3 separate regions of the Homo sapiens genome follow, and regions 2 and 3 are each linked to region 1. The links come from fine-mapping of genetic effects on gene expression. A gene starts in region 1. Each other region holds a variant in brackets. All regions are shown on one strand. Distances are between the middles of the regions.

Region 1 (2,771 bases):
ATGATATTCACAAACATAACTTTTCCATTGACAATAATCCCAGTATCTCATATTTTGTTCTTATTTGCTCTGACATTGTTAATCTAGCTCTCCCAAACCAAAGTCTTGTTATTTCTTTCTGTTTCCCTATTGTAGCCAGAGGACATTTTCATACCTCTCTAGATTTGTTTCTCTAGCTTGTTAGTTCTACTGCTTCCCTGAAATATCTTTCTCGTTTATTAATTTGGCATCTTGAGAGCCCACTCATTTCTAATCACTTTTTACCATGTTTTATTTTGCCTCTGTTTTTAATAATTCTCACCTTTCTCTCTTTCTGATGTCACGTACAAGCAAAATAGGTTTCAGAGGAAACAGTGCCATTAGTTAAGTGAAAGAAATGTGAACCTCTGTGTTTACTATAGGTTACATTTTATAAATGCAGAAACAATCATAATTATTAATCAAATACCGTAGTTTTACTTTTGGCCTAAAATTTATTTGGGGTAAATATCAGGATCAGTAAATAAATCCAAGATACTTTATTTTTTATAATTTTTCAAAAATAAAATGATCTTATATCAGAGTTCACCAACTTTAGTTACAATGTTTGCATCTCAGTTTCTACACAAATAGAAAATGATTGAATAAAGACTTTATTCAAATTGACAAATTAGCCAAGTTGTAAAGTATTCTATAACTAATTCTGAATTGTAAACCCTGTTCCAAATTAAGAAAAAGATGTCCTAAAATATATTAACATCGTTGTAAAACAATTTAGAAGACTGTAAATTAAAAATCCATTTCAAAATAATTTTAAGTTTTAAATTTCTACATTTTAACAATGTTAATATTTTTCTAATAATTGATTTGAAGTAATTGCAGAGAATACAAACTATTGACAAGCTTTCTCACCTAATAATTATGTAAGTAAGTCATTTAGTCTTCCACAGTTCCTTGATGGTCCTATCTGATTTCAAGTGACTAAAATAAATCTGTTATGTCTTACCTTATAAAGTTTGTCAAACAGGAATTAAAGACTAGTTGAGTAAATGCCAACAGCAAGGACTGTGGTTGGGGGTGAAGTTAGCTATTTGATATTGTTCTGTTCTGTGGGAAATAAAAGTGTCTTTGCTTTAGGATCTTTTGCAGTCTTTTGTTCATGTTTATTCGACTAAGTCAAAGCAAGAGTGGTCAGGCATTTGGCCAGGGTGCAAGATCTGGGTGGGATCAGTAAGCAATTTAAAGGAACAGTGTCCTTTCAGAATGAGACTGTGTTTTCCAGACTATTGTAAAAACAACTTGAGAGAACTTTCTACATTTTAGGCATTGGTTGACAGCCTGCCTTTTTTTCTCATGCTATGTCCTTCTCTTTTTATTGCTACATTTCTTTGCCTGGGGGATGTGCTCTAAGATACTGGTTCTGAACATCTCTGTGAAGGAGTATAAATGACACCAGACTCAGAATCAAAGCTGTTTTTTTAAGAGAGGTAACAGTTTGATTGTTATTAAAGCTGGATGATGAGTACATAGGTGTGCATTGTTCTAGTCTTTGTATTTCTGTGATTTTTGAAATTTTTTATAATAAAAGGTATATATAATATACAGGGAAAGAGTGGTCTGAGTATAGTCATAGTTCTGCCCCTAACTTTTATGGGGGCTTCAGTTCCCCACTTATGAAATGAGAGAGTAGATTTAATCATTTATTAAGATGTGTTCGAACTGTAACATGAGAGGTTTACAGCGGTTAATATTTTGGTCTCTCTCTAGGAAAGGATCACTGTGGTTTTTCCACTCCCTGTTTCCCTATTTTCTACCTTGTGGTTATGGTCCATATTAAGTCAATGTTTATCATGTAATATATACTGCCAAGAAGCCACCTGACCCCTAGACAGCTAACAGGCAGGCTTCTCCACGGACTTCCTCTGAAATAGAGAATAGCAAGATCATCCGAGAAAGCAATACAAATGTGCATGTTACGGTTATTTAAAATGAACTTTCTTAGCCATTTTAATGTGTATGAATTTCCTTATTACAGCAATAATAGCCTCCAATTCATGGACACTTACCAGGTGCTAGGCACTGTCCTGAGTGCTTCACACACATTACCTCATTTAATCCTTCACAAGCACAACCACCTATATACAGTAAGTCCTCACTTAATGTCCTCTGTAGGTTCTGGAAACTGTGACATAAAGTGAAACAATTGATAATGAAGACAATTTTCCCAAGAGCTAATTGATATAAATAAGAGTTAAGCTCTTATGGCATATTCCTAGTCACAAAAACATCACTAAACCTCTAAATACTCAAAACACCTCTAATAATAAACATTGAAATAAATCTAAGCTATATATACATTTATGAAAGATTGATAAAAACAAGATAACTGCTTACCTGCATATTCCAGTTCAGGGTCACGGTTGACCAGATCCTGTCCCAGCAGCTGAGGATACAAGGCAGGAACCAGCCCTGGACAGGATGCAGTACTGTCAAAGGGCACTCATACACCCACCCACTCTCTCAGACAGGCACCATGTAGACACACCAATGCATCTAATGGGCAAAGCTTTGGGATGTGGGAGGAAACTCCAGGACCTGGAGAAAACCCACACAGACATGGGGAAAACATGTCAACTCCACACAGTGAGCCTGGCCCAGGAATTGAATTTTTTTTCTCATCAATGTTATAACAAAATGACATTGAACAAAATATTATTCCAGGACCCCTTGTACTTAGTAGATGTTGTAAGAATTCGAATTTTTCCAAGATGGAGGCAGAGAGAGGTTCAGTA
Region 2 (2,771 bases), 27 kb before region 1:
AAAATTTCCTTTTTCCATGTCATTAAAAACTCATAGTAAACAGATAATAGTCAAGAATAGGGAACTACCATAATTTATTTACTCATTTCCCTAGCTTTGACCTAATATTATAATGAACATCTTTATGTATAAATCTCTGCCCAACTTCTGATTCACTCCTAAGAATAGTCTACTAGAAGAGGATGATGGAAGCAGAGACCATAAGCACATTTAAGGTTCACCGGCTGTCCTTTGTCTCTCATGCCATATATAGAAATAAAGAGAGAGAAACTTCCTCCATAAAGTTTGTTTGTTAATCATTTCCACTACCCGAGTATGAGAGAGTGTATCTTCATCTTATGGGCTCCCCATCAACAATTAGTATTATACATTACTTCACTGTTTGCTAATTTGATAGGTGATATAATACTTTTGTATGTTTGCTTTTGGTTGCTGGTGTTGTTGTTGTTGTTGTTTGAGACAGGGTCTTGCTCTGTTGCCCAGGCTGGAGTAGCTCACTGCAGCCTCTATCTCCCAGGTTCAAGCAATCCTCCCACCTCAGCCTCCCTAGTTGCCCACACTGGTGATATAATACCTTATTGTTTTATTGTTGGTTTTGTTTTGTTTTTGAGATGGAGTCTTACTCTGTCCCCCAGGCTGGAGTGCAATGGCACAATCTCGGTCCACTGCAACCTCTGCCTCCCAGGTTCAAGCAATTCTCCTGCTCCAGCCTCCCGAGTAGCTGAAATTACAGGTGTGCACCACCATGCCCAGCTAATTTTTGTATTTTTAGTAGAGATAGGGTTTCACCTTGTTAGCCAGGCTTGTCTCAAACTCCTGACCTCTGATGACCTGCCCACCTTGGCCTCCAAAAGTGTTGGGATTACAGGCATAAGCCACCACGCCCAGCCTATTTTGTTTTTTTTGAGACAGGGTTTCGCTCTGTTACCCAAACTGGAGTAGAGTGGCACAATGACAGCTCACTGCAGCCTCAACCCCCTGGACTCAAGCAATCTTCCCACCTCAGCTTCCCAAGTATCTGGAATTACAGGCACATGTCCAACTAATTTTTAAATTTTTTGTAGAGACGGGGCCTCACTATGTTGCCCAGGCTGGTCTCAAACTCCTGGACTCAAGTGATCCTCCCACTTCGGCCTAATTTTAATGTATTAATTTCACTTATCTGATTGCTACTGTATTCGGATATTTTTCTTATTTATTAGCCATTTTAATTTCCACTTCTCTATCTCTTCATGTTGTTCATATGTTTTTCTGAACAAACTTGTGTAAACTCTTCGTGTCAAGGACTCTATATCTCATCAGTTCTAAGGCACATTTTTTCACATTTTTATATCTCTGACATTGGGGTATATTTTACAGTCAATTGCACCTTACATTTATAATTGGCAGTGGGTTTTTTTT[G/T]TTGTTGTTATTCCTTTTTGGTATGGAAAATAATGGGACATTTAATAATCCCTGACATCTTAGTCAATGAAATATGATATCCTTTGTCAACCATTTTAATTTCATCTAGTTTTCCCAGGTATTCTTTGACTTTCATTTCTATTCTATTCTATGTGTGTCCCTTTTTCTGCATTGCCAATATCCAGGTCCATCTTCCATGTTCAGTTATACTCCAGGAAGAATCTATTCATTTTCACATTTCCCATTTTGACCAGAGATAATTACCAAGCCTACCTTTTGCAGATCCACCTGACTTTAACTCTACAGTACTTTAAAAGCATTCAGAAAGTCTCAATCTATTTAAAGTGTTTAGTTTCATGGGCCAAAGTCATTATCTCACCCTCTTCTCCTAACCTTCTGCCTCATTTTCTCTCCTTGACTCCCTTCCAGAATTATAACATAGAAACTGAAAAAGTTTGGTATCTTGGTGGCATGATGTTAATAGTTCTTAATATAATGAAAACTATTTATTTTTACTCTGTACTTTTTTGGACCCTTTAACATCATGTTTCAGATATACTCTCTGTATATATTTGGCCTTTTGAGGAACTCTTTAACATAATATTATTTCCAAATTTAAGTGCTTTCATTATTGATTGATTGATTGATTGATTGATTTTTGAGACGGAGTCACTCTGTCACCCAGGCTGGAGTGCAGTGGCACGATCTTGGCTCACTGCAACGTCTGCCTCCTGGGTTCAAGCAATTTTCCTGTCTCAGCCTCCTGAGTAGCTGGGACTACAGGTGCACGCCACCATGCCTGGCTAATTTTTGTATTTTTAGTAGAGATGGTGTTTCACCGTATTGGTCAGGCTGGTCTCAAACTCCTGACCTCAGGTGATCCACCCACCTTGGCCTCCCAAAGTGCTGGGATTACAGGTGTTAGCCACTGCGTTCAGCCTATATTTATTTTTTAAAATAAAGGTGAATATTTATCCAATTGTTTGTGTCTACATTTTCAAAATTCCAAATCTCTATGTCTAGTTGCACCACACTGTTTATAACTATTTCACTGACTGATTTCAGAGTTCTTCACACTATTTTGGAAAGTGCCTGTTTTCAGTGTTTGCATCTGGAAAGCACTTCTACCCTGACCTAACTGCAGCTTTAATTAACTTTGCAGGTTAAATAATTCTTTTTACCATAACATTCAGTGGGCGTGGCCTCCAAGGTTAGGGTGTCAGAAAATGAAGTCTTAATGGTCCATAAAAAAGGCATTTGGGGGTTCTATTATTGAGTTAGGCATCACTTTGTTTTCTACCACATGTTTTACAGATGTGAAAAATTGAGCCATTGATTCCAACTCTAGTAGTGAGATCACCATAATTCAG
Region 3 (2,771 bases), 420 kb after region 1:
CAAACTCCCGACCTCAGATGATCTGCCCGCCTTGCCCCCCCAAAGTGTTGGGATTACAGGCGTGAGCCACCGCACCTGGCCTGTCTTTTCTTTTAAACTAGACTAACATGTACTTTCTTTGGCTCTGCTCAACCCCAAGATCCCATTTTATATCATGCCTTATTTTAATTGTTACACTCTTAAAAGGAATATTCTGCATTGATGCATCTACCTTCGTACCCATCTTGCTAACTTAGTTGTAATCTGGCTTCGATTGGGCCATATTTTATGGACACTATTGGCTTGAAGATGATCAGTGATGAGATCCAGTGCTTTTTGCTTAGCTCTTAACCTGCTTTCCCATTCAGCAGCATGTGACATTGCTGATCACCTTGTCCTTTTAAAAGCTGCATCAATTAGTGGTCATTTGATATAACAGCAGAAACCTACTCAAATTATTGACATGACAAAAGGGATCTGAGTACAAGACTATAGGAAACTCTCCCACAGAAAGTATAGTAGGACTGTACAAGGACTGGAATAATGAATGATGAAGCCATCAGCAACAAGTAAAGTTATAACAAGTAATTATTGAACACGTGGTATATCCTAGGAACTACATAGGTGTTAAGTGATCAAGTAGTGAACAGAAGAGACAAACAAGGTCGCTGCCTCTAGAGACTTTACAATCTAGTAGGAAAGACTTGCCATTAGGAGGTAAACAAATGTGTATTGACAACATTTAATGAGCAAAATAGATGGAAAAAACTGACTTAATGATAGATTATTATAGGTTATTAGTGATGGGTGAGGACTCAGGAAGGACATTCTAAGACATGGCATTTCAAGGGAATTGAGGAGCAGGGAGGTAGAAGTGATTTAGGCTGAGGAGACACCTGTATGCAGGCCATGCAGGAGCGTTTCAGGGGAAGTGAAAGGAGGCATTGTGGCTGGAACTGAAAAGGGGAGGAGAAGAGTAGAGCAAAAGTAGTCAGGCCAGGTCAGGCCTTTTAAGCTATTTTAAGGAATTTGGATTTCATTGCAAAGTTATTGGAAGACACCAAACCTTTTTTTTTTTTTGAGATGAAGTCTCAATCTGTTGCCAGGCTGGAGGGCAGTGGCATGATCTCGGCTCACTGCAACCTCCACCTCCCTGGTTCAAGCGATTCTCCTGCCTCAGCCTCCCGAGTAGCTGGACTATAGGCACGTGCCACCA[T/C]GCCCAACTAATTTTTGTATTTTTAGTAGAGACGGGGTTTCACCATGTTGGCCAGGATGGTCTCGATCTCTTGACCTTGTGATCCACCTGCCTTGGCCTCCCAAAATGCTGGGATTACAGGCGTGAGCCACCGCGCCCACCCGACACTGAACATTTTTAAGCAGGAAATGTGGCTCAACATATTTCCAAGTTTACCCTGACTAATAAGTAGAAACTAAATTAAAGAAGGCAAGAGTAGAAGCTGGGAGGCAAGTTGAGTAGCTGCAGCAATAGATTAGGTAAGAGATGACAGTAGTTTGACTTAATGTAATAGCAGAAGAGATAGAAGTGGATGGATTAGACATCCATTTATTAAAAACAAATGAGAGGACTAGCTGCTGGGTTGGAGGGGGCGATGGTGGGGAGAAAAATGAGAAATCAAAAATATTGTCTAGGTTAATTGTTTGGAATAACTGGATAGATGGTGAAACCATTTGCTGAAATGGGGAAAAAATGGGGACAATTTTCTCAGAGGTTAAGAGAAAGCAGGAATATGGAAATTAAGATTTTAGGCCCATTTTAGACACATTCACTTCAAGTATTCATGGGTACTTGACGTATCAAGCAGGCAACTGAATATACAAATATGAATCTTGGAGGAAATGTCTGGGCTGGAGAGTTTCATTTAGGAGTTGCCAGCATTTTGCAGTATTTAAAGCCATGGGAATGTCTAAGATTACCAAGAAGGTGAGTTTATACAGAAGCAAGCAGAGAATAGAGGCCAATTTTTAGAGGGAACTAGAGGAGGAAGAACCTGAAGAGCACTGAGCAGTAGTGGTTAGAGAAGTAGGAAACAGAACAGGTGAGTACAGTGTCCCAGACTCCTATAGAAGAGATTTTTTTAAAGAACTGAGCCTGACCAGCAATGTGGAAAACTGCTAAAAGCTGGAAAAGGAAGAGGTCCCAGAAATATCCACTGGGTCTGGCAATATGGAGGCAGTTGATATTGATTAGCAGTTTTCAGTGGCATGAAGCCAGATTGGAATAGACTAAACAGGAAAATAGTAGATTAATAGGATTAAATAGGATATCAGAAGTAACATGTAGACATCTCTGTCAAGAACTGTTGCTGTGACAAGATCAAAGAATTTGGACCATAGATGGAAAGGGATGGCAGAAGAATCTTTGTTTTGCCTTTTAAAGTAAATGTTGGCATAACAGCATGTTCAAACATTACTGGGAAAAATCAATAATTTGATGATGAAGAAGATGGAGATAATAACTGCAGAAATGAAGTCCCTGAGAGACAAGAGGGTCAGAATTTAAATCAGAAGTGGAGGAGATGGCTTTCGATAGGAAAGGAGAACATGTATTACCTGTACAGAAAGGAAAAAGAAATTGATCCAAATGTTGAAAAAATCATAGATTTGATGGTGGGACTGTAGTGGAGATGTATCAGCAGGAATGGGTCTGGAGTTGGGGTGGTTTTGGAGGATTGAATAAAATGCATAAGAAACAAAATAATCATCATGGGAAAGTGAACTTCCTCTCAGACTCTCTCCCTCTTTCTGGTCACCTGGTGTGATTTCTCCTTCTT

Direction of the effects. Alleles are on the strand shown, and positions count from the first base shown. SD is a standard deviation of normalised expression in the study named. Not every link is listed here.
For the expression in iPS cells of the gene that starts at base 1,109 in region 1, allele G in region 2 goes with a lower level than allele T (moderate effect, 0.66 SD a copy in HipSci).

The links. PIP is the estimated chance that this variant, and not a neighbour inherited with it, causes the effect.
Region 2: its variant is fine-mapped to the expression of COL28A1 in iPS cells (HipSci, PIP 0.92).
Region 3: its variant is fine-mapped to the expression of COL28A1 in cerebellum (GTEx, PIP above 0.99).

Annotation. Positions count from the first base shown.
Region 1 is chr7:7,534,765-7,537,535 of GRCh38, forward strand. COL28A1 (collagen type XXVIII alpha 1 chain) reads right to left here and starts at 1,109. Exons shown (of 35, transcript NM_001037763.3): 1 at 986-1,109.
Region 2 is chr7:7,508,244-7,511,014 of GRCh38, forward strand. All of the region lies in intron 9 of COL28A1 (collagen type XXVIII alpha 1 chain), which reads right to left. Among named protein-coding and RNA genes, the nearest start is that of COL28A1, 26 kb to the right of the region's middle. The variant G/T (reference allele first, on the strand shown) is at 1,402.
Region 3 is chr7:7,959,531-7,962,301 of GRCh38, forward strand. All of the region lies in intron 1 of GLCCI1-DT (GLCCI1 divergent transcript), which reads right to left. Among named protein-coding and RNA genes, the nearest start is that of GLCCI1-DT, 7.8 kb to the right of the region's middle. RefSeq lists an enhancer at 673-802. The variant T/C (reference allele first, on the strand shown) is at 1,196.